3 separate regions of the Homo sapiens genome follow, and regions 1 and 3 are each reported to be linked to region 2. Evidence: microRNA targets listed by miRTarBase, many of them from high-throughput screens and not tested one by one. Region 2 holds a microRNA gene; each other region holds the end of a gene's coding sequence.

Region 1 (4,244 bases), not on the chromosome of region 2:
TGCAAAGAATTGATTCACTATAGAGGAAATTACCTGATTGGCATTTTAATGTGTGAGTCAAATGTTTTTAGGTTAATAAAAGAAACGTTTGATACATGGTTTAAAAAAAAAGTGTCGGGGTAGCCTGCTGTCCCCTAAGAGTAACAGACACTTGCCTTTGCAAATAGATTACAAAAAAAAGGTCTTTCCTCTCTTCATTTATCATTTTAATATGCAAGCTGTTAATATTGAAGTAGATGTTTGTTTTCCACATTCTAAAATTACTGAGATTTCTGTTTAACGTTTCACTTTGCCTTTCTTCTTCACTTACCAATTGGAAGCTTTCCTGATAAATGGATGAGAGCCAAGCAGTTTATATAACCTGAAGATGATTGAATTTCAGCTTTGTGAGAATGAGGAAACATGCATGTGTTACAGGCCAGGCCTTAAAAGGATGCTTATAAACCAAAATAATTCTATGCTGGAAAAACCTGTTGGCTTTGGTGCTTTAAGTTCTTTGTAAAATGATTACTTATCTGCAAGTTCTCTTGGATACTTAGACATAAAGTTCAGCGAAGCTAAGATAAAAAAATAACTCAGGGATATTTCATTGTTTTATTTATTCAGACAGGCCTGTCTTCACTTCTTATTATACTGAAGTTATGTACCATTTGCAAATGTAAGAGTACCTTTGGATTCTTCAGCTACCTTAATAAATATTTGTTAGACACCAGACCTATTTTATTCAAAGCTTATTTTAATATTTGCTCTTTCTTTTTACAGCAATTTTCCAGATTATTCAAAGTATCAGGATGGGCATGTGAAGTGACTGACCTTAAGATGTTTCCATTCTCCTGTGAATTTTAACTTGAACTCATTCCTGATGTTTGATACCCTGGTTGAAAACAATTCAGTAAAGCATCCTGCCTCAGAATGACTTTCCTATCATGCTTCATGTGTCATTCCAAGGTTTCTTCATGAGTCATTCCAAGTTTTCTAGTCCATACCACAGTGCCTTGCAAAAAACACCACATGAATAAAGCAATAAAATTTGATTGTTAAGATACAGTAGTGGACCCTACTTATTCAGTCAATTAAGAGTAAGTTTTTTTATGTGGTTATTAAAACAGTATGAACAATTAGTCTAACTCTGCATAGACAGGGTCTAGATTTTGTTAACCCAAATGTATAACTGCAGTTAGCTTAAATTACAATTTGAAGTCTTGTGGTTTTTATATAGCTAGGCACTTTATTACTCTTTTGAACTGAAAGCACACTCCCTTATAGGTTCATGTAACTGTCCTGTAATAAGGTGCTTATAAATGGAACAACTACACAGCCTAGTTTTGCCACAACCTTTAGCATCTAAAAAGTTTTAAAAGCTTCTAAATGTCTAATATAAAGGGAGATGCTTATAGCCACAACATCTATTTTACCAATATTGTTTCCATTACACTACCTTGGATTTTGCATGAGTGAGTATAGTAACCCAAGATGCCATAAAAAAAAAACTTGATCGTTTTCTGACTTAATCAGTTACTGTGGTTTCACTAAAAGCTACCGTGGTGGAGTGAAGTCAGTCAGGGAAGGTTTGTTTATGTTACATTTATTTCACCAGAACTATTTTAATATATCAAAGGGGTTTACTATGCCAAACAAAATTCTAGGGAAAAATACTGCTAAAAATGGATGCCTCATCAGAACATGCTGTTGAGTCCAATGTGCCATAAGACATTTTAGCATGTTAAATAGCACTTTTAATAGCAAAAAAAGGCACATCAACTGCGAAGTTATCCTTAGTTTGCAAATGCTTTTTCTAGATTAATGATTTTTCAATCATTAGGGTACTAGACACATCAGCCTAAAGTGGCATCTGGAATTGAATGGATTTACTGATAATGATCAGTCTTTAGTCTTCCCTTTGTTATATGACTTTATAGGTTATGATTGATCAAATTTACGTTTTACTAATGGTAAGGGTGAGGGTCATAGGGCAGGTTTTGGGTTTTCTAGTACTGTTGAAAACTGCAAGTATTGGCTATTTGTATACTTAGCCATAACTTGGTGAAAAAAAACCTGAGCAGTGTCTATGTATTAATGCGTTGGAAAGAAAGCTGCTTGTGTTTGCTTTGTTAATTGCCTCAGGATATTTCTTTTAAAATAAGCTGTTTTAAGAGGAACAGAAGGGAAATCTGCTACCTAGTCTATACACAGCGTGAACCTCACAGGGGGCTTCTGATACCCTCAAACATGGAGAACAGTAAGGGAGCAGAGTGGTTAAGGACTTTCAGGAACTTAACTATTCTGGAATAAGGAATGAATCAACTGACCTTGGGCCAGCAGGTTTTTAACTAAATTGTTACTTGCCTTTCTCACCCAGTTAATCAGTCTCTGTACTTGTTTCCCTTTTTGAAACAAGTGTCTTGGTTAACTAATTCTGTTTTATGGTTGTGCTAAATTCATAGCAGGTGCCTTATTCTTTGCTTTTAGTCAAACCATTCCATATCAGAATTTTCCTTGGTTTACTATAGATATTTGGCTTTAAGTTGTTGTTTGTGTTTTTTAATGTACAATGTTCTGATAAATTTGACTGTTAAATTGCTATAGCTAGCAATCATTTTACATATGTAAAATTGCATTCCCTTTGTATTTCATGTGTAATTCACCAATTAAGTGCAGTTTATATTCAGGTTGGATTATGCATGTTTAGGTAAACGAAAGCTGTGTCTTACTTGATTTATTCTTTAAAAATAAAGTTCCCTGAATATTTGATGCTTTTCTTCTAAACGGAAATGATTTTACAGTTATCTGAGTGTACCTTTTATAGTTAGTAGAAAATGATTTTAAAGAATGTTTAGTATTGTACTTAAATGGTATGCAGAGGCACAGATGTAAGGTTTATAACTGGAAATAGGTGGTAAGAAAAATATATAGAAAGCACAATGATTTGAATATTTTTCCACTTAGGATTTCCTAATCTCCTTGTCATCCAATTCAAGCTCAAGATGAAGCACAATTCTTTGATCTCCCTTTGCCAGTTGAATTTTATAGATCATCTAATGTTGAGCACAGTATGAGAATAAATATTGGGGTTGTCAACATTACTCAGTTACTCTTTGTGGTTTAACTCTAACATTTCAACAAGTTGTCAATTAATTGTATCTGTTGGGTTGTATATAATGTTGCTCAAAATAATTAAGTGGACTTCCAAAAATAAGATTTCCATTGTAACAGGATGCATTGTGATGGGCTTTGACTTACATTAAAGAAATGTGGATAGTCAACTGCAGGGCCATGACTCTTCTCACTGAGGTTACTGGAGTTCTGTTGGTACAAAGGACAACCATGGAGAGCTGGATTATGTTCCTGGGCTTAGTAGGTTCACCAGCAAAACTTTATTATGCTTCATTTGTGAAACTTAGAGCATCAGATTCTCCATTTAGAAATTGTTCTTAAGTTTGATTTGCCTTTACTTGCCTTTGTAGTTTTTAAATTTATTTTTTAGATGCAAACCGTAACTTCAAGAGGTAGGAGTTGATTGGCTTCAACAGCAAACTCTATGGCACTCCCTCAGAGAAGCATTTCCTGTCTAAACTTACTTAGTACCACAGTAGCTACTTGTACTACTTTATTTTCAAATTGAATTAGGACACATGTCCTTATTTAGAAAGAGGATTAATGAGCAATAAAAGGCTAGAAATTAAGGGAAAAATTAACTGCCTAGGCTTAGGTAATTCAAAGTAAATATATATCACAGAAACAAAGAAGGGACATGGAAAATTTAATCCAACTGCTTCAATTCGCAGATTAACAAAAACATGCATTTTAGTCAGTGAACAACTTATATGCCAGGTATGGAACTGTGAATACATAGTCCTGACACTGAAATATCTCAGACCAGTAGAGAAGGAACAGACAAAATGAAAGCATAACTACAATTGTAATAAGTATGTCAAAGGACAAGTAAAGCCAGATAAATTTTTTTTGTTGTTTTTTGTTTTTTTCAATCACAGAGCTAATTGGGGGAGAGCAGAAACGAACCAAAGTTTCTTGTACTTTATGGTAATAGGAATGATTGCAAAACTTACACTTAGAACACTTCTGTTTTCACGAGCTCTTTGCTTCTGCTTTTACAGAAATTCTTTAATTTTTTTTTAATTGCCAATTCGAAGGAAAAAGGAATCTGTCCTTTTATGGGTGCATTTAAAAAAAACTAGTGACAAATTTACTAGTGGTGCTCCCTGTACAGCACAAAAATGCAAGGG
Region 2 (4,244 bases):
TTGAGAGGAGCCCTCGGCTTTCTTTCCCTGTAGAACACTTGTGAATACATGTTCTGATCCAGGATCGCTCTTGTCACTAAGGGAACGTCTATGACAAAACGTTTAGGCGGAGTTAGGGCGCAGTTGGTGATTACGAAGTAACATTAAGCCAGGTGGTTTCAGTGCAGTATTGAACTCAAGACTTTTAGGACACCCAAAGCCTCTGCCACTTTTATTTTTATTTGTTTGTTTGTGAGACAGAGTCTCGCTCTGTCGCCAGGCTGGAGTGCAGTGGCGCGATCTCGGTTCACTGCAATCTCCGCCTCCCGGGTTCAAGCGATTCCCCTGCCTTAGCCTCCCGAGTAGCTGGGACTACAGGCTCGCGCCACCACGCCCAGCTAATTTTTTATGTTTTAGTAGAGACGGGGTTTCACCATGTTGTCTGGGATGGTCTCGATCTCCTGACCTCGTGATCCGCCCGCCTCGGCCTCCCAAAGTGCTGGGATTACAGGCGTGAGCCACCGCGCCCGGCCCAGTTTTATATTTTACCGAGGCACTGCCACTCTTAGATTTTCACGTAGTTTTAAAAGACTCAACTTTCTCAGACTGTTAGGAATAATACATTTGTTGATGTCGACTAGGTGAAGATTTTGACTTTTTTTGTTTGGTAGGTATAATTCCAAAAACAGGCCCCATTATGGTGAATTGTCATAACAAATTTTGGCTTCCTACCAGAAACATCTGCATTTGCCTCCTGCTTGCAGATTTATGGCTTAACTTTGTCATGCTTATTACACCCGAGAAAACTGAAGTCTCAGCTTTAATATTTTTTCTGTGATTTCATTAGACTTTTGCTCTAATTTAAAGTTCTTATTAGTGAGGAAAAGAAATATTCTTAAATAACAATAATACTGTAAACATGTATTTAGAAATCATCTTCTTCAATTTCTAACATGCTTTGATCCAAAACCATCACAGAAACCCAGATTGTCTGCCAAATGTGAAAAAGGCACAGTTTCAAACTATTCTACTTGTATTTTTACCCCCACTGTCTCTTGAAACAGGTAACCATGAAGGATAACATTAATACCTTTGTTTCTAGGATTATAGAATTATGTCACCAGTTCCCTCATGGAATCACAGACCAAGTAATTCAGAATGAAATGCCTCATATAGAAGCCCAGCAGCGGGCAGTAGCCATCAATAGGTTGTTGTCTATGGTAAGGTGAATCTAACTATTTTGCATAATTACTGATATGCTGATTATCACTGGTTTTTATTATGTAGTTGTGATGGTTAATTTCATGTCAACTTGACTAAGATACAGGATTCCTACATATCTAGTTAAATATTTTATTGGAGTGTCTGTGTGGGTGTTTCTGAAAGAGGTTAGCATTTTGAATTGGTGAACGGAGTAAAGTAGATATGGGTCCAGTTGGGTGAGCATCATCCAATCCATTCAGGGCCTAAATAGAACAAAGTGGCAGAGGAAGATTGAATTCACTCTTTGAATTCAATCTTGAGCTGGGCTATGAATCTTGTGCCCTCAGCACTCCTGGTTCTCAGACCTTCAGACTTGGACTGGTATCTACACCATCAGCTCTCTGCTCTCAGCCCTTTGATCTGCAACACCAGCTTTCCTGGGTCTCCAGCTTGCAGAGGGCAGATGATGGGACTCCTCAGCCTCCATAATCACAGAGCAAATAGCTTCTGATGAATCTTTCAAGAGGGAGGTGTATCCTATTGGTTCTTTTTCTCTGGAGAACCCTAATACAGCAGTCATAAAACGAGAAAGTGTGTTAGGTTTGACTGATAAGACTCTAAACCAGGAAACAGCTCAAACTACCTGAATTGAAAAAAGAAGAAATAATTATGCGTTATAAGACAAATGAAATAAATGTATTATGGTATAACTGTTGTATTTATTAATTGCCACTGCCATACATAGGTCTAGTCTGTTCTCACCTTCTGTTTGCTTCCTACTGCTGGTGTTGGGCCATTTCCCATAAAATATTCCACCCCCCGATTTTCCTATGAGTTGTCACAGAGCCCAGTCATCAGGGTTTCATTCTCCACATTGTCACTCTGAGCATTTCAGGAAGCAAGAATGAGTCCAGTTGAATGAAGAATGTTGGGCTTTGGGGAGGAAGTGCAGCCTTAGCCCCCAGTGACATTGCAATGGAATTTATCAGTGAAGCCATTCTCCATCTGTCCAGAAACAAACAAGCAAGACTGTCTAAAAACCCACCAAGTGGTGCCGATGCTCTAAATCTCCCTTACTTTCCCTCATCACCAAAACATCCTTTTCCTAAGAGCATTTCAGTTTGGCTTTAGTAGCAGTTAGGTTAAAGAGTTCTACGCCAAGGCCTCATCTGAATGACTGATTTGTTTTTTAAGTCTACTAGCCTTGTTGGATTTCCAAGGGCTCTGGATGTGGAGATTTGGGGTCCGATGAATCTTTTCTTAAACCTTTCCCATCAATTTTCTAGCTCAGGAGTTGGCAAACTTTTTCTATAAAGTGCCAGACAGTATATGTTTTAGGCTTTGTGAGCCATATGATTTCTGTCACAACTACACTGTCATTTTAGCAAGAAGCAGCCATGGATGATGATACATAAACAAATGGCTACAGCCATGTTCCAACAAAACTTTGGTTATAAAAACAAGCTGTGGAGCAGATTGCTCACCCCTGTTCTAGCCCAAGGACAAAGGAATGTTGCTGATTTCTAGTTATTTCACTGTGGTGAAGGTCTTCAGCTCTAGGAAAGACAGAGGAAGGGATTCTGGGAGGTTGTAGCAGTGGAAAAAGTTCTTTTCTTCCTCTGATCGCCCTCTCAGCTCTTTCCTTCTGACTGAAAATCATCTTCAGCACCTCTCTTTTACCACCTCTGCCACCACCCACCCACTGCGAGTCCTATTGGCTATAGGTTGTATGCAGGCAGTAGTAGAGCTATCAAAGGATATTAAGAAAGGGAGTGATTATTAATAAATCATGTAATGTTTCTGATTTTAGCTCTTAAAAACAGTTCTTAAATTTGCTGTCCACACCCCCTCCATTTCTATCCCTGGTACTGCATCATGTTCAGGCTCATGGCTTTTACCTGGACAGCTGCAGTAGCATCTTAACTGGTTTCCATGACTCCATCTGTCTCAGAGAAGCCAGCCTGATTTGGGATTACAGTCATGAGCCACCGAGCCTGGCCCCTGATCTGTCTTAAATGCAGGTCTGACCAAGGCACTCTACCACCTACAATTTGTTTATACTGGAGATTCAAGTTCAAACTCCTGGGTTTCCCACACTGAGTCCCTGCATTGTTCACCAGCCTCATCTCCACCACTCTACTTCAAAAGTTAGGTTTCAGGAGGAGCAGATTGTTTTTGGTTTCTGGCCACATCATGCTGTTTCGTGCCACAGGACTCATGTTGTTCCCCTGCTTAGAAGGTTCTTCTTATTCTTTACAGATGACTAACGCATTAGGACTCAACTCTGCCATTGTCTCCAGGAAGTCACTGAACCCCCCCAGGTTGGGCCGCAGCCTGTTCTCCGAGTACCCAATCTGGGAGTTCAGGGTGGCTTTACTTACCTCTATCTTAATGCCAACCAGATGGGTATTGAAGTCACCTGTGTGTTTCCCTTTTAGAATTAATGTTGTTCCCCCAAACACCTATCATAACACCTGGCACAGTACAAGTATTCAGTAAATATTCATAAGCTGGATAAATGACCAGAGCCTCTGGATTGGGCCTTGTAGTCCTACTTTGCCACTTCGTGGGGTCAGGGAACAGGAGTGTGTCACTGTTCATTCAGTATGTAAATCCATTTCCAAGTCATGAGTGTCTGTTTTAAAACAAGGGAATGGGCTGGGCACAGTGGCTCCTGCCAGTAATCCCAGCACTTTGGGAGGCCGAGGTAGGCGGATCACTAGAGGCCAGGAGTTCAAGATCAGCCTGGCCAACATGGCCTAACCCTATCTCTACTAAAATACAAATATCAGCGTGGCATGGTGGCATACACCTGTAATGCTAGCTACTTGGGAGGCTGAGGCACGAGAATCGCATGAACCCGGGAGGCAGAGGTTGCAGTGAGCCGAGATTGTGCCACGGCACACCAGCCTGGGTGACAGAGTGAGACTCTGTCTCTAAATAAATACATAAATAAACAAGGGAATAGCGTCCCTCTCAACTGTGGCTTTCTAGTACTTCCAGAGCCTAGTGGTATAATTATCTGGGTTCTCTTAAGTTCGGACCCAAGGAAATTCAGGAGC
Region 3 (4,244 bases), not on the chromosome of region 2:
CCCTGGTCGACTGGAGCTTCCAGGATCCCGAGAAGCAGGTGAGGGACCTGAGGACCTGGCTGATGGAGGTCCCCTCCTCTACCGGCCCCGAGGCCCCCTGACTGACCCTGGGGCATCCCCCAGCAATGGCTGCCAGGACTCCACAGACACAGAAAGCAACCACGAAGATCGGGTTGCGGGGGTGGTATCCCTCCCTCAGGGTCCCCCACCCCAGCCACCTCCCACCATTGTGGTGGGCCGGCACAGTCCTGCCTACGCCAAAGAGGACCCCAAGCCACAGGAGGGGTTATTGCGGGGCACCCCAGGCCCCTCCAAGGAAGTGCTTCGGGTGGTGGGCGAGAGTGGTGAGCCTGTGAAGGCCTTCAAGTGTGAGCACTGCCGTATCCTCTTCCTGGACCACGTCATGTTCACTATCCACATGGGCTGCCATGGCTTCAGAGACCCTTTTGAGTGCAACATCTGTGGTTATCACAGCCAGGACCGGTACGAATTCTCTTCCCACATTGTCCGGGGGGAGCATAAGGTGGGCTAGCAACCTCTCCCTCTCTCCTCAGTCCACCACTCCACTGCCCTGACTACAGGCATTGATCCCTGTCCCCACCATTTCCCAAGGAGTTTTGCTTTGTAGCCCTCACTACTGGCCACCTGACCTCACACCTGACCCTGACCCCTCCTCACCTATTCTCTTCCTCTATCCTGACCGATGTAAGCATTGTGATGAAACAGATCTTTTGCTTATGTTTTTCCTTTTTATCTTCTCTCATCCCAGCATACTGAGTTATTTATTAATTAGTTGATTTATTTTTGCCTTTTTAAATTTTAACTTATATCAGTCACTTGCCACTCCCCCACCCTCCTGTCCACAACTCCTTTCCACTTTAGGCCAATTTTTCTCTCTTAGATCTTCCAGCAGCCCCAGGGGTAGGAAGCTCCTCTTAGTACTAAGAGACTTCAAGCTTCTTGCTTTAAGTCCTCACCCTTTACATTATCTAATTCTTCAGTTTTGATGCTGATACCTGCCCCCGGCCCTACCTTAGCTCTGTGGCATTATATCTCCTCTCTGGGACTCTTCAACCTGGTACTCCATACCTCTTGTGCCCTCTCACTTTAGGCAGCTTGCACTATTCTTGAATGAATGAAGAATTATTTCCTCATTTGGAAGTAGGAGGGACTGAAGAAATTCTCCCCAGGCACTGTGGGACTGAGAGTCCTATTCCCCTAGTAATAGGTCATATTCCCCTAGTAATATGAGTTCTCAAAGCCTACATTCAGGATCTCCCTCTAGGATGTGATAGATCTGGTCCCTCTCCTTGAACTACCCCTCCACACGCTCTAGTCCCTTCAACCTACCGGTCTATTAAGTGGTGGCTTTTCTCTCCTTGGAGTGCCCCAATTTTATATTCTCAGGGGCCAAGGCTAGGTCTGCAACCCTCTGTCTCTGACAGATTGGGAGCCACAGGTGCCTAATTGGGAACCAGGGCATGGGAAAGGAGTGGGTCAAAATTCTTCTCTTTCTCCTCCACCTCTCAAACTTCTTCACTATAGTGACCTTCCTAGGCTCTCAGGGGCTCCTTCAGTCCCCATCCTATGAGAAACTAGTGGGTTGCTGCCTGATGACAAGGGGTTGTTTCAGCCCCTCAGTCATGCTGCCTTCTGCTGCTCCCTCCCAGCAGGATTCACCCTCTCATTCCCGGGCTCCTGGGCCCTGTTCTTAGGATCAGTGGCAGGGAGAAACGGGTATCTCTTTTCTCTCTTCTAATTTTCAGTATAACCAAAAATTATCCCAGCATGAGCACGGGCACGTGCCCTTCACCCCATTCCACCCTTGTTCCAGCAAGACTGGGATGGGTACAACTGAACTGGGGTCTTCCTTTACTACCCCCTTCTACACTCAGCTCCCAGACACAGGGTAGGAGGGGGGACTGCTGGCTACTGCAGAGACCCTTGGCTATTTGAGTAACCTAGGATTAGTGAGAAGGGGCAGAAGGAGATACAACTCCACTGCAAGTGGAGGTTTCTTTCTACAAGAGTTTTCTGCCCAAGGCCACAGCCATCCCACTCTCTGCTTCCTTGAGATTCAAACCAAAGGCTGTTTTTCTATGTTTAAAGAAAAAAAAAAGTAAAAACCAAACACAACACCTCACAAGTTGTAACTCTTGGTCCTTCTCTCTCTCCTTTTCTCTTCCCTTCCTTCCCCTTCCATCTTTCTTTCCACATGTCCTTTCCTTATTGGCTCTTTTACCTCCTACTTTTCTCACTCCCTATCAGGGATATTTTGGGGGGGGATGGTAAAGGGTGGGCTAAGGAACAGACCCTGGGATTAGGGCCTTAAGGGCTCTGAGAGGAGTCTACCTTGCCTTCTTATGGGAAGGGAGACCCTAAAAAACTTTCTCCTCTTTGTCCTCCTTTTTCTCCCCCACTCTGAGGTTTCCCCAAGAGAACCAGATTGGCAGGGAGAAGCATTGTGGGGCAATTGTTCCTCCTTGACAATGTAGCAATAAATAGATGCTGCCAAGGGCAGAAAATGGGGAGGTTAGCTCAGAGCAGAGTAGTCTCTAGAGAAAGGAAGAATCCTCAACGGCACCCTGGGGTGCTAGCTCCTTTTTAGAATGTCAGCAGAGCTGAGATTAATATCTGGGCTTTTCCTGAACTATTCTGGTTATTGAGCCCTTCCTGTTAGACCTACCGCCTCCCACCTCTTCTGTGTCTGCTGTGTATTTGGTGACACTTCATAAGGACTAGTCCCTTCTGGGGTATCAGAGCCTTAGGGTGCCCCCATCCCCTTCCCCAGTCAACTGTGGCACCTGTAACCTCCCGGAACATGAAGGACTATGCTCTGAGGCTATACTCTGTGCCCATGAGAGCAGAGACTGGAAGGGCAAGACCAGGTGCTAAGGAGGGGAGAGGGGGCATCCTGTCTCTCTCCAGACCATCACTGCACTTTAACCAGGGTCTTAGGTACAAAATCCTACTTTTCAGAGCCTTCCAGCTCTGGAACCTCAAACATCCTCATGCTCTCTCCCAGCTCCTTTTGCATAAAAAAAAAAGTAAAGAAAAAGAAAAAAAAATACACACACACTGAAACCCACATGGAGAAAAGAGGTGTTTCCTTTTATATTGCTATTCAAAATCAATACCACCAACAAAATATTTCTAAGTAGACACTTTTCCAGACCTTTGTTTTTTTGTGTCAGTGTCCAAGCTGCAGATAGGATTTTGTAATACTTCTGGCAGCTTCTTTCCTTGTGTACATAATATATATATATACATATATATATATATTTTTAATCAGAAGTTATGAAGAACAAAAAGAAAAAATAAACACAGAAGCAAGTGCAATACCACCTCTCTTCTCCCTCTCTCCTAGGGTTTCCTTTGTAGCCTATGTTTGGTGTCTCTTTTGACCTTTACCCCTTCACCTCCTCCTCTCTTCTTCTGATTCCCCTCCCCCCCTTTTTTAAAGAGTTTTTCTCCTTTCTCAAGGGGAGTTAAACTAGCTTTTGAGACTTATTGCAAAGCATTTTGTATATGTAATATATTGTAAGTAAATATTTGTGTAACGGAGATATACTACTGTAAGTTTTGTACTGTACTGGCTGAAAGTCTGTTATAAATAAACATGAGTAATTTAACACCTCTGGTTGTTTTTGCAGACTTCCTTTGCCTTGCTTTTCTACTAAGAGGGAGGGGTCCTCCTTGCAGTATGTTATACCAACTACTGAACAGTTTAGGAGGTAAACAAAAACGAAGAATTTTCAGCCTAGACTGGGAAATGGAGGAGATTTTCCTACCAGGAAGGAGTGCCTTCAGGATAGGAGAGAAAGTCTGACTTGCCTGTCTACCCAAAGTAGAAATTAATCAAACATTTGTTGAGTACCTACTGTGCACAAAACACATTCTATGCCCAGGGTGAAATAATGCGAATGATGACAATCATAGGGTCTACCACTGCTTGAGCATCTCATAAATGCTAAGTACTCATTGAATTGTAGAAACACCTACAAAAGGATGATCACAATTATTGGTAAAAAAATAAAAGCCCAAGAGAGAATAAATACCTTATCCAAGGCTCATCAGCCAGTAAGTGACAGAACCAGAATTTGAACCCAGGGGTGTGTGATCCAAAGCATGTGCTCATCGCTTTATGCCAGGGAATGCAGCCAGTGAAACCCCTAAGCTAGAAAAATCCAAAGTAGGAACATAAATTTGTTTCTGTCTTAAATAGTAACTATTTTCTGTTCTCT

What was found. The annotated mature microRNA hsa-miR-3192-3p reads CUCUGAUCGCCCUCUCAGCUC and lies in region 2 at 2,800-2,820, shown strand. An mRNA with a match to its seed (bases 2 to 7 or 8) in the 3' UTR can be bound and repressed. Matches are read on the target gene's strand: a 7mer-m8 pairs with bases 2 to 8, a 7mer-A1 pairs with bases 2 to 7 and ends in A, and an 8mer does both.
Region 1: the mRNA of SERP1 is a reported target of hsa-miR-3192-3p. Seed matches in the 3' UTR shown: 7mer-A1 at 1,676-1,682 and 7mer-A1 at 2,484-2,490.
Region 3: miRTarBase lists IKZF4 as a target of hsa-miR-3192-3p. Seed matches in the 3' UTR shown: 7mer-A1 at 3,288-3,294.

Annotation. Positions count from the first base shown.
Region 1 is chr3:150,541,017-150,545,260 of GRCh38, reverse strand. It overlaps SERP1 (stress associated endoplasmic reticulum protein 1), which reads left to right. Exons shown (of 3, transcript NM_014445.4): 3 at 763-3,263. The coding sequence ends at 803. Among named protein-coding and RNA genes, the nearest start is that of SERP1, 3.4 kb to the left of the region's middle.
Region 2 is chr20:18,467,863-18,472,106 of GRCh38, forward strand. It overlaps MIR3192 (microRNA 3192), which reads left to right and starts at 2,753; the gene lies at 2,753-2,829. POLR3F (RNA polymerase III subunit F) reads left to right here. Exons shown (of 9, transcript NM_006466.4): 2 at 1,082-1,199.
Region 3 is chr12:56,034,800-56,039,043 of GRCh38, forward strand. It overlaps IKZF4 (IKAROS family zinc finger 4), which reads left to right. Exons shown (of 8, transcript NM_022465.4): 8 at 1-3,636. The coding sequence ends at 532. Among named protein-coding and RNA genes, the nearest start is that of RPS26, 5.0 kb to the right of the region's middle.